Linked DNA regions of Homo sapiens: region 1 is linked to region 2. The links come from fine-mapping of genetic effects on gene expression. A gene starts in region 2. The other region holds a variant in brackets. All regions are shown on one strand. Distances are between the middles of the regions.

Region 1 (15,761 bases), 100 kb before region 2:
GCTGAGATGGAAGGAACTTGAGCCCAGGAGGTGGTGGTTGCAGTGAGCGGTGATGGTGCCACTGCATTTACTCCAGCCTGGATGACAGAGCAAGACCCTGTCTCAAGAATAAATAAATAAATAAAAATAAAAATTTATTCCAAAATCAAACCGCATGCCTTTGCCATGTAACATAATGCACATTTACTTTTATTTTATTTTATTTATTTATTTATTTATTTATTTATTTATTTATTTATTTATTTATTTATTTTGAGATGGGGTCTTGCTCTGTCACCCAGGCTGGAGTCCAATGGTGTGATCTCAGCTCACTGCAACCTCCGCCTCCTGGGTTCAAGCCATTCTCCTTGCCTTAGCCTCCCAGGTAGCTGGGACTACAGGCATGCACCACTACAGCTGGCTAATTTTTTTGTATTTTTAGTAGAGATGGGGTTTTACCATGCTGGCCAGGCTGATCTCGAACTCCTGACCTCAAGTGATCCACCTGCCTCGGCCTCCCAAAGTGCTGGGATTACAGACGTGAGCCACTGTGCCCGGCCTACATTTATTTTAAACTGGTATCATTGATCTTGAGTGAAAACTATCCCCCATTTGTATATGGTTTTTCAAAAGTGAAGGCTTATTTTTCCCTTTTTTGATTGTTTCTTTGTCACAAAATGCCTGTACTATGAAGAAGTCTAATCAGTGTGCTCTTCATGGAAAATTAACAGACAAACCATATGTATTCACTACTTCAGTATTCTCAGATAAAATTTATTTTATTGGCTGGGTGTGATGGCTCATGCCTGTAATCCCAGAACTTTGGGAAGCCAAGGCAAGAGGAAACCTGAGCCCAGGAGTTTGAGACCAGCCTGGGCAATATAGCAAGACCCCATTTCTATGAAAAATTTAAAAATTAGCTGGGCATGATGGCGTGGGCCTATAGTCCCAGCTACTTGGGAGGCTGAGGCAGGAAGATTGCTTGAGTCCAGAAGGTCGAGGCTGCAGTGAGCTGTGTTTGTGGCCACTACACTCCAGGGCAGGTGAGAGAGCGAGACTGTCTGAAAAAAATATTATTTATTGATTAGAGACAGGGTCAGGCTCTGTCACCTAGGCTGGGGTGCAGAATGGCATGATCATAGCTCACTGTAACCTCAAACTCCTGAGCTCTAGTGATCCTCCCACCTCAGCTTCTGGAGTAGCTGGGACTACTGGTGTGTGTCATCGTGCTGTAGAGAGTCTCGCTATGTTGCCCAGGCTGGCCTCAGGTGATCTTCCCGCCTTGGCGTCCCAAAGTGCTGGGATTACAGGTGTGAGCCACCACGCCTGGCCTAAATTTATAATCTGCCTGGTACTGATACTTGTACAAAGAGGCTGTTCTGCTGGCCTAAGGAAGAGAACAGAAAATTATCCCTAGATTAAGTGAAAGATATTATGAGGCTTTCACACTACTACAAGAAACAAGTAGCTCTGGTAATTACCACTCCTTGGCCTGATGTTGTTTTCCTAGTACATTGTAAATATAGTCTGTTTAGGGCATGATGGCTCATGCCTGTAATCCCAGCACTTTGGGAGGCGAGGATGGGCACAACGCTTGAGCCCAGGAGTTAGAGCCCAACCTGGGCAGCATGGTGAAACCCTGTCTCTACAAAAAAATATAAAAATTAGCCGAATGTGTTGGCGTGCACCTGTAGTTCCAGCTACTTGGGAGGCTGAGATGGGAGGATCATTTGGGCTCAGGAGATTGAGACTGCAGTGAGCCGAGATCACGCCACTGCACTCCAGCCTGGATGGCAGAGCAAGACCCTGTGTCCGAAAAAAACAAAAATAAAACAAAACAAAAAAAAAGATGGTGTTGAATTTAAGCTGCTAGAAAAAGAAAAGTGTCATTTGTCACCTACACTCGAGATAGCCAGAACGGGGAGCAAGCTACAGGGCAGCCTCCAGTACAAGACCAATGCAAGGAGCCCGCTCCCCAGGAGCCTGGCCCCAGAGCAGAGTTCGCCATGCCTGCGGAACCTCCCCTCCATGCTATAAGAGGGAAGGGAAAAATACAGACTCTTGAAACTGCGGTGAATTCATTAGATTCCAGCACAATCAATCTCAGTCAGCTTCATTCTTCCTGCTTTCTGTAACATAGAGTGTTACTTGTGCTCCTCATTTCAGCAGTGTCCTTGGTTACTGGACCTTTTGCCACAGCCCTGCAAAACCTGGCCAAACTTGCACCAAGTTGATTATCCTGTGTTTCATATTTTGTTGAGCATCTGTGCATTTTAAAGTGTTGGCTTGGTTAACTTTCTCGATGTTAACTTTTTGCCTTCCTGAGGAATGTATGAGGACCAGTTACCAGAATGGTTTTGTTTTGCAGGTCACGAGAAGAGAATGCCTTCTAGATGCAAAATCACCTCCAAACCAGACCACTTTTCTTGACTTGCCTGTTTTGGCCATTAGCTGCCTTAAACGTTAACAGCACATTTGAATGCCTTATTCTACAATGCAGCGTGTTTTCCTTTGCCTTTTTTGCACTTTGGTGAATTACGTGCCTCCATAACCTGAACTGTGCCGACTCCACAAAACGATTATGTACTCTTCTGAGATAGAAGATGCTGTTCTTCTGAGAGATACGTTACTCTCTCCTTGGAATCTGTGGATTTGAAGATGGCTCCTGCCTTCTCACGTGGGAATCAGTGAAGTGTTTAGAAACTGCTGCAAGACAAACAAGACTCCAGTGGGGTGGTCAGTAGGAGAGCACGTTCAGAGGGAAGAGCCATCTCAACAGAATCGCACCAAACTATACTTTCAGGATGAATTTCTTCTTTCTGCCATCTTTTGGAATAAATATTTTCCTCCTTTCTATGGAAATCTGGGCTCGGTGTTTGTAAAGTTCATTTTTATAAGCTTTTCTATCGCTACATAATGCCTTTTTAAAAAATGATTTTGTAGTCTAAACTTAGGTTGAGTATATAAACCCTGCCATGTAGCTTGAGATGCCTGAAAAGACTGGTAAGTGCGTTTCTTAATCGTTCAGTAACTATTTGAGTGCCTACTGCAGCCAAGGCACTGGAGGGATCAAAGATGTGTAAATTTGGAGTCCCTGCAAGTTCACAAGCTATTTGGAGAGATAAGGTTAGTATACATAGAACTGTAATATAAGGTTGTGTTGGAGCATTGTCCTTAAAGATGGTACCATGGTGAGCAGTTCAAGGTTACCTGCCAGCTGCAGAACAAGGCAGCAAATGCTCCTGAGATGGAACCATCACAGCCTCAGACATAGGACTAAAGAAGTCAAGAGTGATTAAAAAGCCAGGGGCAGGAGACAGTAATTTTGTATTTCAGTAGCAGGCATCTCGATACACTAATTTGAGAGCTTTATTACTTTTAAGAAATTAAAAATTAAAATGAACCTAAATTTTCACCAGCTCATGGCTTTTTGACAGCCAGCCAAGAATGGATTTCCTGTTTTGCAGTTTCTACTTTCTATTCCTCCCAAACTGTCTGAACTCATTACTTTGCTATTCTTATGACCAAAGTGAGTTTCAAGTTGAAGTGACTCTCCTGCTCTCGTTTCTTTTCATTCTTTACTTTTGTTTTGCGCAGTCTGTTAGGCAACTCCATGCTTTACGTTTCCAGCAGGAGGGCCACATTAGCTAATTTCATGGAATACATGAAACATTGATGATTTGAAGTTGAAGGGGGCTATGGTGATATAGGCTAACCCCATCATTTTATGGATAAGGAAGCTGAGCCCAGACAGGGAGAATTTCTCGCCCAGCTTAATGCAGTTGGTCAGAGCTAGACAGGGGAGTAAGATCCATGTTTTCTTTCTTTTTTTCTTGAGACAGAGTCTCACTCTGTCGCCCAGGCTGGAGTGCAGTGGTGCGATCTCAGCTCACTGCAACCTCTGCCTCCCGGGTTCAAGCAATTCTCCTGCCTCAGCCTCCTGAGTAGCTGAGATTACAGGCACCTGCCACCGCGCCCGACTAATTTTTGTATTTTTAGTAGAGACAGGGTTTCACCATGTTGGTCAGGCTGGTCTCCTGACCTCGTGATCCGCCCACCTTGGTCTCCGAAAGTGCTGGGATTACAGGTGTGAGCCACCGCGCCCTGCCATCATACTATTGTTGAAATGTGGGAATGACGAAATCAGCTCAGGTTTTATGAGAGGAAACTCGGTAAATTCCCTTTGCTCAGGAAGTCACTTCACCCTTGAGCCCTAGTTGTTTCATTTATTAAATTCTTGAGAAGGTTCAGTGCCATTAATACCTAAACCCAGGCACATGTTCTCTCGTCACCTCACCCTTAATAGCAGAACTGTTTGTTAACAACATGATTAGGCATCGGAGATGGATGTTGGTGAATCATATTTTCCTGACCGTTGCCACACTCCATCCAGTGTTTGTCAGGGCCCAGACTGGAAGGACCTCCATTTAGCCCGTTCAGAGGATACCGAAAATGTTCCTGCGCTCCAGAGCCCTTCCAGGCGAACGTCATGTGGCCTCCTGGGACAATCACTAGATTAGCAGAGGTCCTAGGTTTGCCATCTTACTCCCATCACTCGCTAGCTGTGTAACGGGGCAAATCATTTAATTTCTGACTCTCAGTGTTTTCATCTGTAAAATAGGGATAATGCATACCTTTTCTACTATACGAAGTTGTTACCAAATGAGATTTTGGCGGGGAAGGTGATTTGTGAATTATAATAATACATCAAGAGTATTTTCCAAATAAATGACCAAATCCCCAGGGTACACTGACAGTACTTTTCTATTCAGATAGGACCCAGAGGGACAGCCAAGTGATTTTTTTTTTCTACGTAGGGTTACACTTTGGGTTCTTTGTGTTTTGTTTTGTTTGAGACAGAGTTTCGCTCTTGTTGCCCAGGCTGGAGTGCAATGGCACGATCTCAGCTCACTGCAGCCTCCACCTCCCAGGTTCAAGCAGTTCTGCCTCAGCCTCCCAAGTAGCTGGGATTACAGTAGGCTGCCTCCACGCCTGGCTAATTTTTTGTATTTTTGGTAGAGACGGGGTTTCACCATGTTGGTCAGGGTGGTCTTGAACTCCTGACCTCAGGTGATCCGCCCACCCTCGACCTCCCAAAGTGCTGGGATTACAGGCGTGAGCCACTGTGCCTGGCCTATGGTTACACTTTTGATTAGTCATTTGTACTTGGAGGTAGAGGTTTACAGAAAAATAAAAGGCACCCTTATTAGGCCCCCAGGCCTGAGTTCAGAGCCAGAGCCTAAGTGGCTGGACCACACCCTTCCTGCCCTTCCAGGTTCTACCAACTCTTATACCAGGATAGAAGTATTTCTGGCATGATTTTGAAGATGAAGTGTGAGGATTGATTGGTTTCTTTTAGCACTGTTTTTGTTGTTTTCTTTAAACATATAATGATGTCTAGACGTGTGTCACTACCCCAACTTAATAATATTTTATCTTTCCTTTGATGTTGCTTCAAAAGTAGCACCTTCTTGTTTAGCCTTTTTTTTTTTTTTTAAGCAACGGTAGGTGTTTGGTCATGCTGAAGTAAATTTAGAATTTGAGAAATGATTTAAAATTGTTGCCAAGAATCATGAAAAATTTGGCAAGAGTCAATTGCTCCTTTATTAACATAAATTATGTTTAAAAATATATGTCTACACATTTTAGAACAGTTTCATACTCCATCCTCTATGCAAAAATTCTTTTTGGTTTGGGAGAATATATGTGTTTAAAATGGAGAGGGAGGCCAGGCGCGATGGCTCACACCTATAATCCCAGCACTTTGGGAGGCCAAGGCAGGCAGATCACCTGAGGTTGGGAGTTCAAGACCAGCCTGGCCAACATGGTGAAACCCCATCTCTACTAAAAATACAAAAATTGGCCGGGCACGGTGGCTCATGCCTGTAATCCCAGCACTTTGGGAGGCCAAGGAGGGCAGATCATCTGAGGTCAGGAGTTTGAGACCAGCCTGAGCAACATGGAGAAACCCCGTCTCTACTAAAAATACAAAATTAGCCGGGCGTGGTGGCACATGCCTGTAGACCCAGCTACTCAGGAGGCTGAGGCAGGAGAATCGCTTGAACCCAGGAGGCAGAGGTTGCAGTGAGCCGAAATGGTGTCATTGCACTCCAGCCTGAGCAACAAGAGTGAAACTCTGTCTCAAAAAAAAAAAAAAAAAAAGCCCACTATGGTGGCGGGTGCCCGTAATCCCAGCTACTAGGGAGGCTGAGGCAGGAGAATCACTCAAACCTGGAAGGCGGAGGCTGCAGTGAGCCAAGACTGCACCGCTGCACTCCAGTCTGGGCAACACAGTGAGACTCCATCTCACAAACAACAACAACAAAATGGAGATGGAGACTAAAGCAAATGTTATGTGTTACTTTTCCCCTGGCCCTTTTATTTCAACTTTCTCTCAAGAGTTGAGTGGATGAAATCAATTGCAGAAAATTCATAATTTTCAAAGGAAAGCGCAACATAAAACATTGTAAATAATACCTATCTCAGTACAGTTGACTAGAAATAACCTAATGCCGACGTAAGGAGCTGTTTAAATCATGTTGCTGCATCCAAATGAAGTAAAATCAATTTTGTTTTCAAAATACATGCCTAGAAAAGAGACAGAAAAGAGAACAAAATTACTAGCGTTGCTTGCCTCTAGATGGTAATTACAAGTCATCTTATTTTTCTTTTTCCTTTTCAGCATTTTTTCCAATGAAAATGTAATAGTGTAGTAAAAAGAAACAATGGAAGTTAATTTAATAGCAAAAGATAATGGCCAGAATATTATGTTACAAGAAAAAAAATAAAACAGGATTTTAAACAGCTATACATAGAAAAAAGCCTGGTAGGAAACAGACCAAGATGTCAAAAGTGATTATTTCTTTTACAATATTGTGTCTTCCAACTTTTCCATAAACAGCATGTATTACTTTTATAATCAGAAAAAAAAAAAGATATTTTTGAGGGCATCATTGTCAGAAGTGTTAGTACTTCCTTCAAATATAATTTAGTGCACACACACACTTTTTAAAAAAGTTATTCAGGGTCAGGGGAAATGCAGTCAGCTAGATTTATTAAAACATTGAAGCTATTATGAATCAATGAAAATCAGTGAGCTCACACAGAAATTGTGATTGTTTTCATTGTGCAGGACAGAGCACTGATCATTCCGTGTATAAAACTCTAACCTCCTTTTGTATAGGTGCTCACAGTGACAGCATGGGGAAATGAAAAGGGAGCATTGATTTTGATTCTTCCCACATAGAAAAGTGGAAGCCTAGGGTATTAATGCTCTGGGGTCCCACACCGCTTAGAAAAAGCCCCACTGTTCTTCTATGCCCAGCTGCTCCAAGCAAAGCTTTCTTTCAGGCTGTCCCTGCTTCAGTTAGACTCCCATCTCAATGAAATGTATTGGCCCTCTTTTCCCAAATCCCGCTGCCCCCAAGCCAGCTCCAAAAGAAGGGGATATTCCAGTAGCTGAGGATGCTCAGCAGCTAATACTGCCGCCCCCATGAATCCAATCAAGATTCCATTTCAGTTTCTGTCAGGATGTTGACATGGTTTCCATGGTTTCTTTACACCGTCCACAGTGTGGTACTACTGTGGGTTGCCACTCCAAAACAGAACAAGCAGAGTAGATATTTTGTCAAAGTAAGCCTGTATTTGAGGAAGGGTGAGTTAAGAAGCTAAGTGTGACTTTGTCCAAGCTGCAGATGCTTTTCAACAACAGGTTGAAAAAGTAGTTCAGCCAGATTCAACCAGGTTGCACAGGTATTTTCAGCTCCTGTTTTTTGTCCTGATGTTAGCTGCTTGAGCAAAAAGACTCAGCAACCTGACCTCCTGCAGCCTAGAGTTTAGCAGGGAAGAGAATTAAACAGTAATAATGAATGGTTATTTATGCTACACCAGTGCTTCTCAAATGGTAACGTCCAGATTGCCTGGGGATTGTGTTTTAACAGATTCTGATTAAATCAAGATGGGAGCAATGATTCTGTATTTCCAACAAGCTCCCAGGTGCTGCTGGTGCTTCTGGTGGGTGGACCCCATGGAAGCAAGGTGCTGTGTCTTAGGGAAGTACCGGTTGCTAGGTAAGAATAAGCACTAGAAACATTAAACTGGTGGTGGGAGGAAAGGTTATTGTAGGAAATGACCTTTAAGGGTAAACCCCAAGGATGAGTAAGAGCTTAGCAGAGAGGATCGGGCACAGTGGCTCACACCTGTAATCCCAGCACTTTTGGAAGGCCGAGACGGGAGGATCACCTGAGGTCAGGAGTTTGAGACCAGCTTGGCCAATATGGCCAAACCCCGTCTCTACTAAAAATGCAAAAATTAGCCAGCCATGGTGGTATGCACCCGTAATCCCAGCTACTCGGGAGGCTGAGGTAGGAGAATCGCTTGTATCTGGGAGACAGAGGTTGTAGTGAGCCGAGATCATGCCATTGCACTCTAGCCTGGAGGACAGAGTGAGACTCCATCTCAAAAAAATTTTTAAAAAATTAAAAAAGAGTTTAGCAGAGAGGAGTGTCTGCGGTATTTCCAGTAGACCTGTGAAATTGTTGCAGGAGTCCAGGAGAGATAAGTGTCCTGGAGTGTGGTAATGGAAATGAATTAGGAGAAGGAGCTACAATGGGGCCATAATTATTAGTTAATACACATAAACTTCCGTTGAGTGATTAGTTATGTGGGGGCAGTAAGGGACAGGGAGGAGCTGAGAATTACACCAGGTTCTGACTGAGTGATGGAGCCCTTTACTAGGATGGAGGCACAGGGGATACAACAAACTTGTTATAGCCTGATGGGTTCTTCTTGCCTGCTGCCCAGAAATGCCAATGCACTGAGAACAGC[C/T]GAAGTGTTGCAGCAGAGAAATAATTTTTTTTTTTTTTTTGAGATGGAGACTCGCTCTGTCGCCCAGGCTGGAGTGCAGTGGTGCAAGCTCCGCTCACTGCAAGCTCTGCCTCCTGGGTTCATGCCATTCTCCCGCCTCAGCCTCCTGAGTAGCTGGAACTACAGGCGCCTGCCACCACGCCTGACTTTTTTGTATTTTTAGTAGAGACGGGGTTTCACCCCATTAGCCAGGATGGTCTCGATCTCCTGACCTTGTGATCTGCCTGCCTCGGCCTCCCAAAGTGCTGGGATTACAGGCGTGAGCCACAGCACCCGGCCGAAAAAGAATTTAATAATCAAAATGCCAGCCAAGCAGAAGGACTGGAAATCATTCTCAAATCTGCCTCCCCGAGAATTCAGAGGCTAGAGTTATTTTATTTTATTTATTTTAATTTTATTTTTGAGACAGATTCTCACTCTGTCACCAGGCTGGAGTGCATGGTGCGATCTCAGCTCACTGCAACCGCTGCTTCCTGGGTTCAAGCGATTCTCCTGCCTCAGCCTCCCGCGTAGCTGAGACTACAGGTGCGCACCACCACACACAGCTAATTTTTGTACTTTTAGTAGAGACAGGGTTTCACCATGTTGGCCAGGATGGTCTTGATCTCTTGACCTCGCGATCCGCCCACCTTGGCCTCCCAAAGTGCTGGGATTACAGGTGTCAGCCACTGCGCCCTGCTGAGGCTAGAGTTTTTTTGTTTTGTTTTGTTTTGTTTTTGAGACGGAGTCTTGCTCTGTCACCCAGGCTGGAGTGCAGTGGTGCGATCTCAGCTCACTGCTCCCGGGTTCACACCATTGTCCTGCCTCAGCCTCCCAAGTAGCTGGGACTACAGGCGCCCGCCACCACTCCCAGCTAATTTTTTTGTATTTTTAGTAGAGATGGGGTTTCACCGTGTTAGCCAGGATAGTCTCGATCTCCTGACCTCGTGATCCACCCACCTCAGCCTCCCAAAGTGCTGGGATTACAGGCGTGAGCCACCGTGCTTGGCCCTCTGAGGCTACAGTTTTTAAAGGAAAGCTGGGTGGGCAGGTGGCTAGGGAATGGGTAGTGCTGACTGAGTAGGGGATGAAATTATAAAGGGTTGAAGTTGTCTTCTTGCACTAAGTCAGTTCCTGGGTCGGGGGTCACAAGACCAGTTGGGTCAGTTTCTGGGTTATGGGTTGCCCATCCTAGTGGCGCCAGCTGGTCCATCAAAATACAAGGTCTGAAAGATACCTCAAACACCAGCCGTAGGTTCTACGATAGTGACGTTATCTATAGGAACAATTGAGGGGGTTACAAATCTTGTGACCTCCAGCTACATGACTCCTGGACCATAATTCTGACCTTGTGGTTAATCTGTTAGTTTTATGAAGGCAGTTTAGTCCCTGTGTGATGAAGAGGTTCGTTATCTTTGTTTAAAGTTAAACTATAAACTAAATTCCTCCCATAGTTTTCTTGCCCTATACACAGGAATGAGCAAAGATGGTCAGCTGGTGAGGTTAGAAGCAAGATGGAGTCAGCAATGCTGGATTTCTGTCACGATCATAATCTTTGCAAAGATGGTTTCAAGCTTAGGGACACAGTGGAGTCCAGCTGTGGACAAAGAGTTGCAGGGACCTGAGGTGTCCATGCAGGGACACCCCCAGTGGGCAATTGTTATTTGGGCCTGGAGGTTAAGAAGGACCAGGCTGGAGGTTAGAATGTGGGCACCAATGCAGAGATAATGGAAGCTGTGGGTGTGGATAAGGGCCAGGAAGAATGTGTGTAGAGTGAGAGGAGAGGCTGTCTAAGCTGCAGGCCTGAGGGGCACCCACTCTTAAGGGTGGACAAGGGAAGAGGAGGACTCTGTAAGGGGCAGCCATTGTAAATGGCCCTGGTTTGGATAGCTGTCGGCACCACCCTCACCCCCAGCTTATTAAGTATTTTACATTACATTATCCTAGGAAGTAAGTGGGACACATATTGTACCTCTTTTATAGCTGGATAAACAGATCAACAGTACATCAAACCTACTCTCATTCCAACAGCTTGGCTGCCCTTCAGCTGGTATGTTTACAGGGACTCCAACCAGCCCTCACTCACCTGACAGCCAAGCTGCCCATTTCTGAGATTCTAGGAGCCGCTTACAGCTGTTTTTTTTTTTCCTACTTTTTCATCATTATTATCAGTCCTGTGGCTAACAATAATACCTAACACATAGCAGTTCCACATACGGATGTTAACTTTTTTTTTTTTTTTGAGACAGAGTCTCGCTCTGTTGCCCAGGCTGGAGTGCAGTGGCACGAGCTTGGCTCACTGCAACCTCCGACTCCTGGGTTCAAGCAATTCTCCTGTCTCAGCCTCCCGAGTAGCTGGGATTACGATGTGCGTCACCACGCCTGGCTAATTTTTTGTATTTTTAGTAGAGATGGAGTTTCACCATGCTGGTCAAGCTGGTCTCGAACTCCTAACCTCAGGTGATCCACATGCGTCAGCCTCCCCAAAGTGCTGGGATTACAGGTGTGAGCCACCGTGCCTGGCCTTTTTTTTTTTTTTTTTTTTGAGATGTAGTTCTGCTCTTGTCACCCAGGCTGGAGTGCAATGGTGTGATCGCGGCTCACTGCAACTTCCACCTCTGGGGTTCAAGTGATTCTCCTGCCTCAGCCTCCCAGGTAGTTGAGATTACAGGCATGCACCACCATGCCCAGCTAATTTTTGTATTTTTAGTAGAGATGGGGTTTCACCATGTTGGTCAAGCTGGTCTCGAACTCCTGACCTCAAGTGATCCACCCGCCTTGGCCTCCCAAAGTGCTAGGATTACAGGCGTGAGCCACCACACCCAGACCACAGATATTATTCTTAATGTTTCACATATTTTAACTCATTTAATCCTCACAAAAACCTATTAAATACATTTATTATCTTCATTTTATAGATGAAGAAATTGAGGCCCAATGTTCCAAGCTGTTGTCAAAAAACCAAATTATAACAAACTAGTTTAAAGATTTCAATTGGCTTTATTTGCAATTCTAGAATCAGGCAACACTTCATTCCATAAAACAGTAAGTCCCAAAGAGCTGAGCAGAAGAGCTTGGCTTTATACACACAGAGAGGGGCTGGAGAAAGCAGAAGGAAGGAACAGAGCATATTAGTTACTTTTAGACAGAACAATAGGAATGTCACTGGTTAGTAACATTGGTTTACTTCAGGATACCTTTTTGGTTTAAGGATTAAGGCAGCCGGGCGCGGTGGCTCACGCCTGTAATCCCAGCACTTTGGGAGGCCGAGGCGGGTGGATCACGAGGTCAGGAGATCGAGACCATCCTGGTTAACACGATGAAACCCCGTCTCTACTAAAAATATAAAAAAATTAGCCGGGTGTGATGGTGGGCGCCTGTAGTCCCAGCTACTCAGGAGGCTGAGGCAGAAGAATGGCGTGAACCCGGGAGGTGGAGCTTGCAGTGAGCAGAGATCGCGCCACGGCACTCCAGCCTGGGTGACAGAGCGAGACTCTGTCTCAAAAAAAAAAAAAGGATTAAGGCAGAGGAACTTCCCTTATCATACTGATTGAAGATTGGAACTGGTCTTCTTGGGAAATTGGTTGTTGTCTGTCTCTCTTGATTTCTTGCAAGGTCAGAAAACTCTTCAGGTTTGGTGATCTGGAACTTTAACATGGCTGACTCCATTTTTATTTTTTATTTTTATTTTTTGAGATGGAGTTTCGCTCTTGTTGCCCAGGCTGGAGTGCAATGGCGCAATCTCGGCTCACTGCAACCTCCGCCTCCCAGTTTCAAGCAATTCTCCTGCCTCGGCCTCCTGAGTAGCTGAGATTACAGGCATGCACCACCACGCCCGGCTAATTTTGTATTTTGAGTAGAGACGGGGTTTCGCCATGTTGGGGCTGGTCTCGAACTCCTGACCTCAGGTGATCCGCCTGCCTCAGCCTCCCAAAGTGCTGGGATTACAGGCGTCAGCCACCGTGCCCGGCCCTCCATTTTGATTTTTAGCCTGGTCTGTCGGGGCCTAATGCAGGAGCTTATTCCAAAACAATGGCCTCCTATAATGGTTTATTTAACAGTGTTAATTAGAGGAAATGGGGTTTAAACCCAGGGGAGTCCGACTTTAGGGTTCAGGGCTGTCACTGAGGCTCCATTTTTCTGAGGTAAAATTCCTCACTTTACCCATCGATGACGGTCTTGTAGCCTTAGTTTCTTGGCCACACCTTCAACCTTTCAGTGCCTATGGTTGTTCCTAGCCCCAAAAGGTCACATGGTTCTTCTAATACCTTCCATTAAGAAGCCAATAGCTTTCTGAAAATGAGGCCAGAGGCCATTTGGAGAATCCTAAACCTACTACCTGGGAACGGGCAGGGTCTTGTGGTTCTGAATGTCCTCAGAATGAATTTCCTGCCATCCCTGGGATTCCAGCTCCCCTCTCTCCACAGCTCCCCACAAGACAGGGTTGGAATTGCTAATCCCCTGCCTTTGGGGCAGACTATCAGACCCAAAGGTAGTTCTTTGTGTTTTTTTTTTTTCCGGTGACACTTCAATGCCCTCATGCAATAAAGGGGCCTTCCTTGATTTTCCTGAGTTGCCCAAGGGGGCCGGCACCTGCAAGTCCCAGGGAGGGTGAGCACTTCATGCTCTCTGCCAGCGTTTCTGAAGCATGGGGTCGGAATGGGATTTTCCAGTGTTACATTGCATGTGGATAGACGGTGCAGGTCCCTGAGAAAGCATCGCCTCATCTCACCTGCCTCTGCCTGGAAAGTTTCACCCCTCTCAGCTCAGCTCCAGGGGCATGTCCTGGAGGCAGTGCCCCGCCTCCTTCCCTCCAGAGGTGTGCGCTGTTTGCTTCCCACAGCAACCTTTGCTTATCTCCGTTATCACAGTTGTACATAACTCTGTCTTTCCCAGGGGCTGCAGAAGCTTTACTGGGCAGGATCCCTTGTTTGTTCGAGTTTGATCCCTACCATCTTGCACAAAAAGCTGTTCAGTAAATGTTCATTCACTGCAAGTTGGCTTGGAAAAAAAAGTCTTGTGAGAGATCACCTTTTTTTTTTTTTTTAATTCCAGTCTCTAGGTATTGAGTTTTCTTAAAGGATGGTAAAACTGTCTGACCTGGACCTCTAACATCTTAGAGGGTGAATTTCATGGGGCAGTCACACAGGGCCCCTTGCTTAGAAGGCCCCTGCACTGGGTTTGATGCTCTGCTCTTGTATTGAAATTCTTAGCAATTTTTTTTTGTGGTGGTGGGGGCGGGGGGATGGAGTTTGGCTCTTGTTGCCCAGGCTGGAGTGCAACGGTGCAATCTCAGCTCACCGCAACCTCCGCCTCCTGGGTTCAAGTGATTCTCCTGCCTCAGCCTCCCAAGTAGCTGGGATTACAGGCATGCGCCACCATGCCTGGCTAATTTTGTATTTTTTTTTTTTTTTTGAGATGGCATCTCACTCTGTCACCCAGGCTGGAGTGCAGTGGCGTGGTCTCGGCTCACTGCCAGCTCCACCTCTCGGGTTCACGCCATTCTCCTGCCTCAGCCTCCCGAGTAGCTGGGACTACAGGCGCCCGCCACCATGCCTGGCTAAAATTTTGTATTTTTAGTAGAGACGGGGTTTCACCGTGTTAGCCAGGATGGTCTCGATCTCCTGACCTTGTGATCCGCCCACCTCGGCCTCCCAAAGTGCTGGGATTACAGGCGTGAGCCACTGTGCCTGGCCTAATTTTGTATTTTTAATAGAGATGGGGTTTCTCCATGTTGGTCAGGCTGGTCTCGAACTACTGACCTCAGGTGATCTGCCTGCCTTGTCCCCACAAAGTGCTGGGATTACATGCCTGAGCCACAGCGCCCAGCCTTGAAATTCTTAGTAATTTTTGAACAAGGTCCCTGCATTTTCATTTTGCACTTAGCCCCACAAATTATGCAGCTAGTACTGCATATTATAAGGAGACTCTCTAGTCAATCAGCAGGTCCTAATTGGGATCCACACCTATCTGTAAACCCCCTGAAAGCACCTGCACAATTAGGGGTGTGTATATTCGTGTGTGTTTTCCTGGAGAGCAAGTCTATGACTTTCGTCAGACCCGAAGCCAAGTTCAGAGCCGTGGTTATTAACAATAACAACGTCACCCAGGCTGGAGTGCAATGGCATGATCTTGTCTCAGTGCAACCTCCGCCTGCCTGGTTCAAGCAATTATCCTGCCTCAGCCTCCTGAGTAGCTGGGACTGCAGGTGCGTGCCACCGTGCCACCATGCCCAGCTAATTTTTTGTATTTTTAGTAGAGACAGGGTTTCACCATGCTGGTCAGGCTGGTCTCGAACTCCTGACCTCATGATCTACCTGCCTCGGCCTCCCAAAGCGCTGGGATTACAGGCATGAGCCACTGTGCCCGGCCCAACAATAGCCATCTTTTACCTAGTGCTTATTGTGTGCCAGCGCCTAAGGACATTATGTAACTGTGATAAGGACAGGAGGCAGGGAAATACTGGGTAGAAGAGAGCGGTTCTCTGGCAAAGGCCCACCCACAACCCCGGGCCTGGGGCCCTAAATGAGAACTTCACATCCCTGTTTTCCCATCTAAATGTTGCTTTTTCCAAAACCACCCTGGCCTGCCAGACCCCCCATCCTGTACCCATAAGAACCCCAAACTCCACTGGCAGAAAAGCAGAACAGTGCGGCAGAGGAGAGAAGAGAAGAAGCATCTGAACGTCAAAGAGGCAGCTGGTCAGCTGCTTAGTCTGCAGCCAAACTCCTTCCCACTCTATCCACTTTCCTCCTCCCCATCCCGCTGAGAGCCACCTTCATCTCTCAATAAAACCTCCACATTCACCATCCTTCAAGTCTGTGTGACCTGATTCTTCCTGGATGCTGGACAAGAACCCAGGTGCCAAGAGGGCAGGGTGTAAAAGGCTGTCACCCTGACTCTCCACTGAGCTGGTTAACACTTAACTGTCCACGGAC
Region 2 (15,761 bases):
TGAAAATCATATGTTTAAGTAAATGTTAGGTACAGATTACAAAAATCTGTTAAAGCAAAACATTTTGGAGGAGTGAAATAGTAAAATGCCAAGTATTGTGGCAGATTTATGCTCTGAACCACACAAAAAAATTGAGGAAGCATTTTTTTAAACAGTCGGTTTAAATTGTTTTTAGAATTATTGCTTTTTGTTCTAATTTTCCACAACCATTAATCTCACTTGTATATGGCACACCCAGCACTTGTGCCTGTGGGCCATATTAGATGTTCATTGTCAGAGCTCAAGATGATATATATAAATATATATATATATATATATATATACACACACACACACAAATGTCTGTGCAAGTAAGAAAAAAAAAGCATATTCTTTGTGCCTTGTATTTTGGGGAAACTCTAAAACTGGTAATATTTTGTATGATGAAAACCCTAATGAGAAAAAACAAGATATATAGATGGAAAAATTATGGGGTTTAAATGTTTTTTTGTTCCAACTCTTTTTCAGATTTTTTGAATGTATATAGGACTATGTTGAAATGTAGATATATGCCACAGAGTCTGTGTATTGTATAAAAAACAAAACAAAAAACAACAAAAAAAAGATGGCTCTAGAAAACTCATATTTCGGTACTTGACCGGAAGAAGACAAATACTTGCACATTATTGCGATTGTTTTATTTTTTGTACCAAAGACAAATGCAACTGATATGGCAAACTGCCAGTCTAAGTAAAGTTTTGCACAGCTTACATGATACTGTATGAATGTATGAAAAAAAAGGAGAAAAAAAAGAAAAAAAAAGGTCAGGGTTAGGGATCTTACTGAACTGTGAATTTTATTTCTGTTTGGGTCCAATTATCTACAGAAGGAGCATCCATACATACAAATATTATTTTGCTGTTCCTCTAGTTCGCTTCCATAGTAGATAAGTTGGTGGCCATTTAGATGTCTTTTATTTCTGCACTTATTGTAGGAAATTTTAATATATTTCATTTTAGTAAGCTATTGATAAAATAGTTTTTGACTTTGAAAATTAAAATGTTTATTTAGCTTATTGTAGTATACTTCCACCAGACAACAAAATAGATTATTTTTATTGTATTATGTATATATATATATGTAAAGAAAGAAAAAAGCTAAAAATATCTAATTCTTTAGTTGCCACTTTTCCGATTGATGTATTATTGTGCATGTAATATTTTCAAAGATCAACACAGGCTAAAACAAAAACAATTTATAGATTTTTATATTTTTGTACAGGTATTTTCAAACTAGCTTCTTCAAACTTAACATGTGACTTATTCTTCTATAGTTTCTAGAATTGAGAAACATTAACACATTTAGTTTTTAGGTGCTCTTTTTTGCTCATATAAAACAGCTTCATTAGTCAGTGTTTTAACTGTGTTCAAGCTTTACCTCTTGATGAGAAATTTCTTATGTCAAGGCAGCATTATAAACCTTCCCCCACAGATTTTTCCATCCTGTCTCTCTTACTGTTTTATTCTCAAATCTTGTGCTTTGAACTCTGAAAACTGGTGGCTTAAAAACTAAAAAAAGAAAAAAAGCATATTTAGCAAGGAAAAAAATACCAAAAATTTCAGGCATAGCTGCTGGAAAAATTATCTATTTCTCCATTACCCACTGTAGGATTTCTTTTTTAATTATACTTTGACTATAAAGTGTCAAAGTATAATTTGTTCTTTTCTTTTACTTTGTTACCCCATTTGTAAGCTATAGCATATGAAGCTATATATATAGCTTGTGAAGGTTTGATCTAGAACACCCAGTAACAAATGAACAATGTTGCTTACCTGCTTCTTTGACATCTTAAAAAAGAAATCCAAGGAGGATTGTAAGGATTGTCTTACCACCTTAGCTGAACTGTGATGCACAAGATTTTTCTATGTGTTTGGTGGAAATGTACCTGGTTTGTACATTCACGCTAAACAGATGATAAGCTCAAGTCTGATGGTTTAATAGAATGTAAGTTCATCGTTTAAAGCTTTTCCTTTTTAGGTTGGAGAAGGCAAAACACAGGCTTGCAAGTTGGAAGTATATGAAGTCTTGACAGAGTGTGTCTGGTAAATTGAAAAGTGTTTCAAACTATGGCAGTTTTGCAATCAGGTGAAAATCACCTCATGATATTCAGCTGATAAGGTTTATAAAATTGCCCCTTTCTAGCTGCTCTGTTAGGAATTCTGGTTTTTGATACTTTTTTCCTGTCTGCAAACCAGAATTTGATTTTTTGGTCTTGCATTTCAAAAAAAAAAAGACTTTGAATCTGTTTAGTAGATTCCATATCTTTGAGTTTCAGTGTTTTATATGTACTACTTAAGTTAAATAGTTAAAAGCTTTTAAATAGTTGAGCTTTTTAATGTTGACACTTTATTTTGTACCTATTTATATATGTATGTATATCTTAGAAAAGCACTTTGTTAAAAAAAAATTGCATTTTATATGATTCCTGCCATTTGCTGCTAAATCTGGGCTGGTCAGAATGCTGCAGCGATACTTGATCTATATAAAAACCTGGCAGTAAAATGTAGAGTGAAAGTTAAATCCTCTTGCTGTTTTAACTTTATCATAAAGATGACATAGGCAAGCTGTGCAGCTTTACATTTTAACCAGGGGACTCTGTGGCATTTAAAACCGTCTAGAAATGGTTGTACTTTAATGCCAGTAATAATCTGCTTCCTCTATTGTCATTAAAATATATACGTTTAGTGTATCACACAAACCAATCTTATAAGGGTAATGTAAAAACCCCAACAATTGTACATGTTCTGTTTTTGAAAATTGTGGCATGTATTTTTGGGTGAAGATCATTAGAGAAGAGTTCTCTAAAGGTTTTCTGTGTTCATACATGGTATACAGATAGCTCATAATGAAGTCCAGAATCTTACTTTTAAGTGAAGGCATTGTGAATTCACCTCAAGTAAACCCATTGTTCCAAAGCAATTATAAACTTTGACTCTAGTACTACTATGATTTAAAAAAAAAAAAAACCAACAAAAACCTTTTTTCCTAGTTTCAGATACACTGGATTCTTTATAGAGTTTGTCTCCATATGAAAGCATGCTGTCCAGTCGCTCTTGTTAAGATCTTGTCTGAGTTTTGAATTGGGTGCCACACTTTTCCAGTCAATATAATTGCTTGTTCTACTGTACCATGTATGATTCTTGTCCTTTCCTATATCCTTCATGACAGATTATGATGTGGCTTTATATTGTGCCTTACTTGTACATTTAAAACTAAACGTCTTCATTCCCTTCCACTTCCTACATCTTTAACTTTGACCTTTTTGGTAAGAGAATCAGAACTATTACAAAAGCATCATGAAGGATTTCAGATGGGTATGGTTTCAAATTCCCTCTCTTTATAGTTATTTTATATTTGTATGAAAGACCAGTTTTGGATGGTCTTTGAATATAGGGGGGAAAGATTAGCAGTAATTTCACTACATCCCTTTTCTCTGACTTTCATGCATTTCTCATACATCTTCTTTCTGATGCTTGACTTTATTTGCTTCCTAGCAATAGTCTGCATTTAAAGAAAGGTGTGTTCAATTCATCAGCTTGAAATTGACTATTTCATTTTTCCAGGATTTTTTAGGAGAAGAGTACCCATTTTGTTTTATAAAAACAGATGACAAGTCTCTTTAAAAGAAACAGAAGTACAGTACTTTTGAAATACAATGCTGTTAGTTTGGATTTCTTTTTATATATATATATAATATTCATACAATGATCTGATGTTTGCCTTCATTAATAAAGCTGTTAGTTTATTCACCAAAATGTCAAGAATGGATGTGCTTTTCTTTATTCCACACATTTAAAAAAATTTAGCTGCTAAGATTTAATGTTATAAGAAATGAATTCAAGTTGCCTTCAGCAAGAATTAACAAAAACTTATGTTCCCTTTCTTTATATAGTTTCCTAAAATTCTGTTCAAGTATTTTCTAGTTAATTATGTAACAGAATGTTAGCATCTCTCCATATCTTGAAACTTGAATTTTGAGAATGCATTGAATTATGCTTTCAGTGTTAAAGTAAAAGGTTTCAATTATCCTTCTAGTGAAGTCTGTTGTGGAATACCATTTCCCATGGAACTGAGGCCATTTCCACAACTTTGCACAGAACTGCAGTCTTGTTCTTCCCTTGGATCATGACAAATAAGTCTCACACAGTGCCGTAATACTTGTGGATTCTTTTGTAATCTTTGTAATCTTAATAAGGGCATTATGAGAAGACGACTCCATGTTTTTTTAATACTTCAAACACATTGGGATGTAACAATGAATGTCAACTGTAGGAATGGTGGTTTCGTTTTAAGGAATAAGCATGTTGGGGAAAGATGATGAAAATGTACTACTGAAAGTTATACACTTCCATAGGCAAATGGGATTATGTGTTGAAGCATAGTCCTCATGCTTAATAAACTGACTGAAATCGTAGAAATTACACCTAGGAACTGAGCTAGGCCAAATTGCCATTTTTGTTTAGAGAGTTTTGGAGGTAGTAGTGAGGGGACAGAGCCTTAAAACTACTTCCAAACAGTATTTTGGAATTGAAGACTTGGTAACTAGTGAAGAACATCAAAGTTGGGTATTTCAATGTGCCAAGTTTGGGTGAACTAGGTTCGGTTTGCCTCTTTCATAACAATGTAAACACAATGGTGTAGTTAATTAAATTCTGGGTGGATAGGAGCAGGACTGATTACTATGTCTTGCCCTTCGCCCTTTGTTTTTTTCAGAACCAAATAACAGAAATGTGTATGTGTGTACTGTATCTGCCTTTCCACCACATTTTTATGACACTGTATTCCACTGCCTGCTTTTTTACCTTCTTTCCCTAGGATTTGTCCTACAGCTTAGTATTGTGGTTGACAGCGATACTAGGGCTGACAGCACAGAAGTCACAAGAGAAGAGTGGAAGGGCAAGAATTCAAAGCATTTGTTCATACAATGTGGCAACCTCTTTTGCATAGTTGCGTAGGATCCTGTTTGTAATGCTATCATAAATATTCTGTAGTTTTTTTTTTTTCTCTCCCAACTGGAGCTATGACACTTTTTATTGGATTCAGTCTTGTCTCTTGTCTAGAAAGAACTTTATCTTGTTGACGCATGAGCTGTTTAAAAATTATCCTATTAAATGTTGGTTAATAGTTGTGCAGTTTTTCATTTCAGATGGAAAGGCAATGCAAATTTTGCCTTTGTTTTCTGTCACCTTCCAACCCCTGAGCACTTCTAGTCAGATACAGATTCATCAGTGTATGCAACATCCTTTGTAATTTAAAATAAAAAAAGATGAAAAGAAAACGTTCTGAATTGTTTGCCTCATGTTTTCGCCCTTCCTTTCTGTACTTATATCTTGCTTACCTAGGTAACCATCCGCTCCTCAAGATAACCTATTCCAAAGAAATTCCAAATCACAGAGAGTGGTGAACTGCTGGTCTGCTGCCCCTCTCGTGGTAATAATCAAAGAGCTAACATTTTTTTGACACTATAGGTTGATTTTTCAATATTTTAGTGACATTTAGCTATTATATAGAATTATTTGTTGATGTAAGCATTTGCATTCTTCACAGCTTAGAGGATATTCTTATTTCTCCTCTTTTAATCTTTGGGCAAGTGTTCTGCATGGGAAATAAAATATTTTGGGTCTCTCCTGATTTAAACATTTGTATGTGTTTGTGTGTTTAATCACTCTAAGTAAGTCTCCAAACTAAGCTGGGCGTATATATAGAGGCTTAAATCCAGAGACCTAAGTGAAGGCTTCCATCAGAGTATGTGGCTGAAAGTCAGCCAGCAAATATTTGTTGAGCACTTACTCTGCCAGGACCTGTGCTAGGTACTGGACAATAGAGAGATGAAAGAGAACTCCAGGAACTCAGAGCCAGCATGTGAACAGGATTGCAGAACAACACAGGAGCTGTTACAGATATGCAAAGGGCTCTAGGCACATTATTGTTGCTGAGGTGTTTTCATGGACACATCCAGTGGTGTATTAGAGAATTGATAGACTTGGGTTCTTAGTATCCTGGACCCTTGAAGAAACCCTCTTTGTTTCATGTGAGTGACATTAAGGCCATCAGGAAGCAAAGGGGAGGGGCATGGCCTCCCATGGACTGGTTCTGCATCAGGACTTGATCTCTAAAGACCACTGCTCACAGGATCCTCTGTCAAGATCTTGAGACTGTTAAAGGGCTGGGTGAGCCAGACCAGTATAGTCCTTAGGAAACTAAACCTGTGGATAGCATCCAGTTAGCTGGGTCATTCAGCTGGTGAGCTGTTTAGCCACAGTACAGTGGAGAATTTGAAAGAAAGAAAATGGCTGGGAAATGCTATAATATCCCAGCTAAAAGGTTCAGAGCAGGAAGAAGGTGTTAGAAAGCCCTAGGGGAGGGAGTGGCATTCCTTAAGACTCTGCTAGGTGCTTTTTTGTTACAGGAAACTCAGCTGCTACTCTCAAGCGCCCAATGAGGCTGGTGGTCATGTTCATTTTACAGGAGACAAGACTCAGATGAGGAGACTAGCCCCAGACCTACCTTATATGATTATAGAGCTCCAATTCAACTCCAGTCGGCTTGCTGCACTACAGAAATAATTTGTATTCATCTCTTTGGGATCAGGTCAAGTCACAGGCAATATTTGGAAGGATGTCTCTGTAGCGGGGGATAAAGGCCTTAGAATCTAAAAACCAAAAAGAAAGCCAAAACCTAGCAGATAAACAAAAGCTAGTCTAAGGATCAGTGGGTAAAGGTGATAGGGGAAGCAAAACAGAGTTGAGAGGAATCAGTGATTGCGTGTAATGATCACCAGACTGCACATCTGTTCCTCGAAGATGGCCTCTAGCTTAAGGTTTAGGATTGGGTCCCCTTATTGGAAGGAAGTATATTGGAGGGTAGAGAAAAAGGGAGCTTATGTTTTCTTCTTTAGCTGCAGCATAAGAGATGCAACTGGGGACTGTTGATTGCATATGAATATTCAACAAGAAGCATGATGTGAACGGGGTCCCAAGGGCACGTCTGCAGGTCTGCCAGCTGCTGGCTTTGGGGCTTCTCTGCTGTCCTAAACAGGGGGCTTCTATGTGAGTATCCAAAACACTGGAGTGACCTGAAGAAAGTAAACCTCAGTTTCTTTAAAAGGTTTTAACCTGAAAATATTACCAGGAATAAACTTAACAGAAAATGTATACAAGGCCTAGGATAAAGAAAACTTTGAAAGTACTGTGAAGGACACAGAAGGAAACTGGAATAAATTGAAAGATACACCAAGTTCTTACACAGGAGCAGTGACATAGAACTAACAGTGGTAAGTTAAATTAAAAATATAATATTGCTAAAAAATGTCATCCTAAGAAAACATACCAAGAGGGTTTAAAAAAAAAGTTTACACAGGGATAAAATAGCTGGAAGATGCTGGTAGGCAGTGGGGCTGAGGGGGCAGTGATGCAGGGGACAAGGGGAAGAGTTATTTAATCCTAGCAGATACTAAAAGTCGTTATAAAACCATAATAGTTAAAACTAATTTTGATACATGAATAGGCCAGTCAAGCAGAATAGAAGGTCTAAAAGTAGACTCAAACATATACGACAATTTAGTATGGCAAATGTGGCATCCAGAACCAGTGAGCAAAAGGTAGACTCTTCATTAAATAGTATTGGAATAACTAAGTAACCTCCGGAAAAAGTAAAATTGGGTCTATATCTCACACCATAAGCCAACATATATTTCAAAATAGATAATGATCTAAGTGTAAAAAAAAAAAAAAGCTACAAAAAACCACCCATAAAAACACTACAAGGAAATGTGGGCAATCCCTTTAAATCCCTGTAATTTGGACCACGAATCCAGGAATCATAAACGAAGATTGATAAATTCAATGTAAAACAAGATTAACAAAAACCATAAGCTAAATCAAAGTTCTATAGACTTTTTAAGGCTGTAGATGTCTTTAAAAAAAAATGAAAATAGAAAAGCTTTGAAACTCATCTCTAAGGACTAATCCTCCTAATATATAGAGTTCCTGGAAACGGATATGAAAAAAACCAACAACCCAATAGAACAATGAGCAGACAATAGAATAAATGCAAATAGCTCTGAAGCATAGGTAGAGTTTCTCAGCCTCCTTCATGATCAGAAAAGCATAAACTAAAGAAGGCATTTCTACCTAATCAGATTGGCAAAACTTCCAATGTTTGTTAACCTATCCTGTTGACAAGGCCACGGGAAACAGGCATTTATGCCATGTTGCTGGAGGGAGTATGGATTGACATAATCCCTATGAAGAGCAATTTGGTAATATGTCAGAATTTTTAAATGCATATATCCTTTGACCTAGCAACTCCATTTGCTCTGGGCAAGTCATTATTCCTCTCTGCCCCGTTTTTACCTCACAGAGTTGTTGTAAGAGTTAAGCGAGACACACATGAAGCGCTTAGTACAAAGTTCCTGGCACATAGGAAGTGCTCCCAAAATGTGGGCTAGTAGTAGAATAACAGCAGCTAACGGGCATTGAGATCTTACTATATGCCACATTAGCACACTGTGCTTGGTGCTTTTCATGTATTTTCTCATTTAATTCTCCAACCTGTGAAGTAGGCGCAATTGATTATCACCAGTTAGCTTCCGAGGAGACAGAGGCACAGGCATGCGAAGTGTGTGGTGGACAGGATTTGAGCCCAGGCAGATGCCAAGCCTGTGATACACTGCCTCTCTATTAGGTGCAGTGGGGTGATGAATACCTTACGAGAGGGTGTGTAGAGGGCTGTAGGGACACAGACAAGCACATAGCCCCGCTTACAACAGGTGGGGACCATATTGATTTTTTGGGGAAAAGATGGCTTTCAGTAGAGGCTGTGCCACTTTCTTTCTTTCTTTTTTCTTTTTTTTTTTTTTTTTTTGAGATGGAGTCTTGCTCTGTCGCCCAGGCTGGAGTAGTACAGTGGGGCGATCTCGGCTCACTGCAAGCTCCACCTCCTGGGTTCACATCATTCTCCTGCCTCAGCCTCCCAAGTAGCGGGGACTACAGGCGTCCGCCACCACGCCCGGCTAATTTTTATATTTTTAGTAGAGACGGGGTTTCACCGTGTTAGCCAGGATGATCTCGATCTCTTGACCTCGTGATCCACCCGCCTCGGCCTCCCAAAGTGCTGGGATTACAGGCATGAGCCACCGTGCCCGGCCTAGGCTTTGCCACTTTCAAGATAGGTAATCTTGCAACAGGGTTGATTGTTTTTTGTTTTAATTTACTCTAAGCCCTACTCCTGATCTGTGATAATAGTGTAGTACAATTTCAAGGGTGGTTGTGAGGATTAAGAGAGATGAACATGGTCGGGCACAGTGGCTCACGCCTGTAATCCCAGCACTTTGGGAGGCCGAGGCGGGTGGATCACGAGGTCAGTTCGAGACCAACCTGACCAATATGGTGAACCCCGTGTCTATGAAAAATACAAAAATTAGCTGGGCATGGTGGCACGCACCTGTAATCCCAGCTACTCAGGAGGCTGAGGCAGGAGAATTGCTTGAACCTGGGAGGTAGAGTTTGCAGTGAGCCAAGATTGTGCCATTGCACTCCAGCCTGGGCAACAGAGCGAGACTCCGCCACAAAAAAAAAAAAAAAAAAAGAGAGAGAGATGAACATTCAAGTCCTAAGCCTTTAGGTCCTCACAATCTATGCTTGCTGAAGTGACCCGAACAAATGCAGATGGAGTGGGGTCGAGTGGGGGAAACGCTTTCTAGGGAGAGGGAACACCACATTCTAAGGCTACACATCCAGAAGGAGCTTGAGCAATCCAGGAAGGGCGCAGGGTGCGGTGGCTGATGGCCGGGGTGGCTGATGGCCTTGAGGACCAGCTAAGAAACTTGGATTATTTACTAACAAAAATAAAAGAGCCACCATTTGTTGAGGGTTTGCTCTGACATTTCCATCAAAACTACCTTAGCAAGGTAGATTTAATAAATCCAGTTGTATACAAAAGGGAAACACGAGAAGCCATAGAAGGGCTGCATACAGGTAGGTGACTTGATCAATTTCGTGTTTTACAAAGATCCCTTAGATCATGTGTTGGAGTGATAGGAGGTACTCTACCGACCTGCCTTGAACTCCATACTTTAAAAAATATATGACGTTTATCATTTCCTCTTTTACTCCACAATTTATACTCACTGTAGAAAATATTAAAAATATAAGAAAGTTTGAAGAAACAAAAAATTATTACTGGTACTTTCCAGAGACATCTCAATTGATACTTTTCTTCCAGTCTTTTTTTTTCTATGTAAAAAATATATAGTTATTAGAATGCCTGACAGAAGGAAGATGGAAAGAGACCACTGTGAAGCGTTCTTGATATTCCCTCTTCCCTTCCTCTCCATGTTATTAGGGCCATACCAAGAGGAGAGGCTGATTTCCCTACACGTGTCAGGGAAAGTCCCAACTCTGCGCAGTGACCCTCGCTTGCCATTTTCGCCGGTCTCTAGGGGGCGCTGCCCCGAGACTGGGTGGGGAGGGAAAGAAGGTGGTGCGAAAACGCGTTTGAACTTGGGTCCTGCCGCTGCCCGTAGCCGGCGTCCCCAACATGGCGGCTCCCCAAGACGTCCACGTCCGGATCTGTAACCAAGAGATTGTCAAATTTGACCTGGAGGTGAAGGCGCTTATTCAGGTACTGATCCCGGGACCCCTGCCGGGCTCCAGCAGCCCTAACCCAAGCTCTGCTGGTCTGTGAGCTTGGCAGTGTCACTCCCGAACTTTCCCCACTTGGTTTCCCAGACCACAGGCTCCGCCCCATGGTCGGCTACCCCCCCGGTCCCCATTTGGTTGTGTCCCGGTGACTGCTGGCCTTGATCCTTTTTCCGGGTGCCGCCGGATCTCCCATCCCCAGAGCACCCCACTGTTCTCCGCCCCTGACTCAGCTACTGCTTCGGGGCTCGGCTTTGCCCCTTCCACCTGCAGCCCTGGTCGTCGCCCCGCCCCTGACTACCTCACAACCTACCTGTCACCCTGCTTGGCCCCGCCCTCTGACGCTGCTTCAGCATCCTCTGGTAGCGTCCGGGAGGCAGCTAGCCCCGCCCCCTGCTGGCCAGCTCTCCTGGCATCCAAGGCCACCTGGCACGGGAGGCACCGGGTGAAACGAATGTAACCTGGACCGTAGTTGTGATTTTATGCTTGAGGAAATCGAGTACGGCGCCAAGGCCTAGGTTAGAAGGCATACCTGGGTCAGTGGCAAAACTGGGACCTGGACTGTGAAAGTCAACCTAGGAATAACACCTTAGAGTGTTACCCCGTTTGAACAGATAGGAAATGAAGTGTTTCGCCTTAAGCCATTTAAGGGTAGAGGTAAAATAAACGAGTGGACTTAGGCAAGAATTGGGAGTGTAGACACGGTTCCATGAGTTCAGCAAAAAGAAACCGAGTTTTAAACCTTGTTTTTGCTTGTTTGTTTTTGTTTTTTTGAGACGGAGTCTCGCTCTGTCGCCCAGGCTGGAGTGCAGTGGCGCGATCTCGACTCGCGGCAAGCTCCGCCTCCCGGGTTCCCGCCATTCTCCTGCCTCAGCCTCCTGAGTAGCTGGGACTACAGGCACCCGCCACCACGCCCGGCTAATTTTTGTGTTTTGCTTAGTAGAGACGGGGTTTCACCGTGTTAGCCAGGATGGTCTCGATCTCCTGACCTCGTGATCCGCCCGCCTCGGCCTCCCAAATTGCTGGGATTACAGGCGTGAGCCACCGCGCCCGGCCTAAACCTTGGTTTTTAAAAATAATCATTTTCAACAAAGTCACTAAACATTAGATGTAGACTCAGAGTTTGTAACAAGGTGTGGCAAAAAGTGCAGGAAAATAGGGCTCCCCAGATAAACCAGATGCAGAATAAACCAAATTAGATGCAGAATAAACAAATACGGTGCAAAGAAGTGTGATTAAATGAATAAGCCAGAGAAAAAGTGAAATTTGATGCAGATATTTAAAACTTCTTGAACTTCACTTCTCTGATGTATACATTACAAAACTTCTGGGCCAATTATAGAAAAATAAACAGGTTTCATACAAATGAAATTACATTTTCACATAATCTAAATTGCTTAGGCATTCTTCTGTACTCTTTCTAACATTTGGGTTCTTGTCATTGCTGATGAGAAAGACTGATTATAGCTGGATGTATTGCGTTCTTACCGTTTTCCAGCAGCTCTGCTAAGTGCTTTACATACATACATAATCTATGATGTTCTATGAGGTAAGTAGTGTTGTGATAAGGAAACTCAGACACAGAGAATTTAAATAACTTTCCAGGTAACTTTACACAGCTCATAAGTTGCTACAGCCAGGATTCGAATCCACCTGGTCTGTCTCCAGAGCCTGCCGTGAAAGCTGGCACCAGTAATTCTGAATGTCCAGCAACAGATTCTAAATCTGCCCTTAAACATGTCTATATAAACACTCTAACTTATCACTAATGGTTTGTAAAATCACACTGGAGAAGTTAATCTCATCATATGATGCCAGATATTTAAACATCCTGATCTTCCAAGTTGGAAGGATCTAAGGTTCTAAAGTGATAGTATCACTTTTGCATGTCCATTCTTGTTGGGCATACAAGCTGTTTTAAGCTGTTTCCTACTGGCCAGGTAATGTTTTGTTAAAATTTAGGCACTAAAAATTAGGTCAAAGCAGTTGTGTTTCTTTCTAGGCTTTTATATTAATTCAACATTAATCTAAAAAGGAATGAGAAAAATGTAAATGATAATGTTTTTGCTTGTGTTGCAGAGGTAAACAGCAAAGATCAGGATGAATTATAGTTAGTATGTTAATATTAGTTGGTCTAAACCAACTCTATCACTGTATGGATGGTGTCATTTCATTTCATTGCCTTGAGAAAGGCCTTTCATCTGTTCAATGTCTCCTAGGATATCCGTGATTGTTCAGGACCCTTAAGTGCTCTTACTGAACTGAATACTAAAGTAAAAGAGAAATTTCAACAGTTGCGTCACAGAATACAGGTGGGTATTCTCAATTCAGTCAATGAAGGGGGCTCTGTCCTGGGTATATCCTCTGCTTGAGAGCCGTCTGGGTTCTTCAAACACCAGCTGATGGGAGCAGTAAACACTTAGACAGGGAGGGTGACTCTGTACTAACCTGCTCTCCAGGTAAAAACGAGAAACTTTTGGCCGGGCACGGTGGCTCACGCCTGTAATCCCAGCACTTTGGGAGGCCGAGGCGGGGAGATCACGAGGTCAGGAGATCGAGATCATCCTGGCTAACACGGTGAAGCCCGTCTCTACTAAAAATACAAAAAATTAGTCGGGCATGGTGGCAGGTGCCTGTAGTCCCAGCTACTCAGGAGGCTGAGGCAGGAGAATGGCGTGAACCCAGGAGGCGGAGCTTGCAGTGAGCCGAGATCGAGCCACTGCACTCCAGCCTGGGCGACAGAGCGAGACTCTGTCTCAAAAAAAAAAACAAGAAACTTTTGCATGCAGAACACTGCCAGCTGTGTGAACGAGTGAATGGCAGGAACACCATTATCCTTGGAATTTTTGAAATCCTGGGGCCACTTCAAATACTTTCTCTTCTCTGCCATTCTTTCTACCCTATTCATTCATTCACTACCTCAATCCATCACACTCCTGGGTTTTTTTTTATGCTGTTACTTTGCTCAGCATCTTCCTTATTTCAATAGTCACCAGTCACATCATATACACATTTAGTATGCCTGAATTCAAGTATGGTATATGTGCTGTCTCAAAAAACACTAGAGGGTGACAAGTAGCAGTTATGTTTGTTTGTTTTATTTATTTCACATTTTATTCTTATTACATTGGGCTGGGCAAAGAGTTGTGCACCACTGTATAGATCATGTTATTCTGTTGCTTTCATTTTTAAAAATGAAAATGAGGCCAGTAGTTTGAGAACAGCCTGGCCAACATGGCAAAACCCTGTCTCTGATAAATGCAAAAATTAGCTGGGCATGGTGGCACACACCTGTAATCTCAGCTACTTAGGAGGCTGAGGCAGGAGAATCGCTTGAACCCAGGAGGTGCAGGTTGCAGTGAGCAGAGATCGTGCCACTGCACTCTAGCCTTGGTGACAGAGCAAGACTCTGTGTCAAAAAAAAAAAAAAAAAAAAAATATATATATATATATATATATATATATATATATATATATATATATATATATATTTTAATAGAGATGGATTTTTTGCTCTATGTTGCTTGAGCTGGTCTTAAACTCCTGGGCTCAAGCAATCCTCCTGCCTCAGCCTCTGAAAGTGCTGGGGTTACAGGCATGAGCCCAGACTATTGTGTTGCTTTCAGACAGAATTGGGATTCAGCTTCTAATTGTTTCCAAGTTCAGAATCTAGATCAGAATCAGAGGATGAAGACCACTTGTGGGTCTGGGGGCTGCTGAGAGGAAACACGTATGGAGCTGACTATGGAGGGGTCATGTTTCAAGGCTGCCATCTGGGCATCCAAGGATCCTGCATGCAGCTCATGGGTAGAGGGGCCCACAGCAGCCCCTCAAAGTGAATAGGGATGGCACAGGCCCAGGGCTGGAACTCAGGAGTTGGAAGGATGACTGCATCTGCACACTTAAAAAGATGCTGTCCATCTGTATCCTGGAATCCTGTGTAGGCCCTCTCCCTGAGGACAGGAACAGGGTTGGCTCCTTGGCCTCTGTTTAGCCTCATGAGTAGTTCAGTAAAAGTCCTGCAAACTTGTCATTATCTGGAGACATTCCTGCCGGCTCCTCTTCATGCCCCTCTACTTGAAGCACTAGGCAGTTGCTTTATATTGTTCATGATTCTTCTTCAGTTATTCAAATTTGAGATAATTGCATTCTTTTAGGGAACTCTGGATCTCCTGGTCACTCCAAGGGTTGATTACTGTTCTGATGGTTTTTCTGGTTTCTTGGTTTCTTCTTCCTTCTTTATTTCCTGAGGGTTTCTAGTAATTTCAGTCTGATGTCTTACGTTCTCCATTTTTATTCCTGAGTTTTCTCCTGGAATTCTTCTCACTGCAGCCACAGGACCTAATGTTGGGTTGGCAGAGAACTAGCACTTACTCTGCCCTAGTGGGACCTAGGAGAGTCAGGAGGTACCTGAGTGTGGAAACATGCCTGCTCCTCTAGACTTCTGGAGGTCTCTTAGAAGTAGCAGTTTGAATAGTGGAGATGTTTCCCCTGCTGTACCTTCAGTGAGGGTGAGGTGGGTGTCATGGATCTGCCCATCTGTATTAGTCTGTTTTCATGCAGCTGATAAAGACATACGTGAGACTGGGAAGAAAAAGAAGTTTAATGGACTTCTGACATGGCTGGGGAGGCCTCACAATCATGGCAGAAGGCAAAGAGGAGCAAGTCACGTCTTATATGGATGGCAGCAGGCAAAGAGAGAGCTTGTGCAGGGAAACTCCTGTTTTTAAAACCATCAGATCTCATGAGACTCATTCACTATCATGAGAAAAGTGCAGGAAAGACCCACCTCTGTAATTCAATCATCTCCCACCAGGTACCTCCCATGACATATTGTGAGAGTTACAATTCAAGATGAGATTTGGGTGGGGACACAGCCAAACCATATCACCATCCCTGGATGGGTCTTGTGGCACCTGGTCTTGTGGTATTGGGGTTTTGTATTAGGCCTTTCTTGCATTGCTGTAAAGAAATACCTGAGGCTGGGTAATTTATTTAAAAAAATGGGTTTAATTGGCTTAAGGTTCTGCAGGCTGTATGGGAAGCATAGCAGTATCTGCTTCTGGGGAGGCTTCAGGAAGC

Evidence for each region. PIP is the estimated chance that this variant, and not a neighbour inherited with it, causes the effect.
Region 1: its variant is the best candidate, but not a certain one, in a credible set for the expression of BNIP1 in lung (TOPMed, PIP 0.74).

The regions. Positions count from the first base shown.
Region 1 is chr5:173,032,052-173,047,812 of GRCh38, forward strand. It overlaps ATP6V0E1 (ATPase H+ transporting V0 subunit e1), which reads left to right. Exons shown (of 4, transcript NM_003945.4): 4 at 2,348-3,394. Among named protein-coding and RNA genes, the nearest start is that of CREBRF, 16 kb to the right of the region's middle. RefSeq lists a silencer at 4,956-5,025. The variant C/T (reference allele first, on the strand shown) is at 8,806.
Region 2 is chr5:173,133,968-173,149,728 of GRCh38, forward strand. BNIP1 (BCL2 interacting protein 1) reads left to right here and starts at 10,564. Exons shown (of 6, transcript NM_001205.3): 1 at 10,564-10,662; 2 at 12,899-12,991. The coding sequence starts at 10,579. It overlaps CREBRF (CREB3 regulatory factor), which reads left to right. Exons shown (of 9, transcript NM_153607.3): 9 at 1-5,317. RefSeq lists enhancers at 10,757-11,285, 11,227-11,296.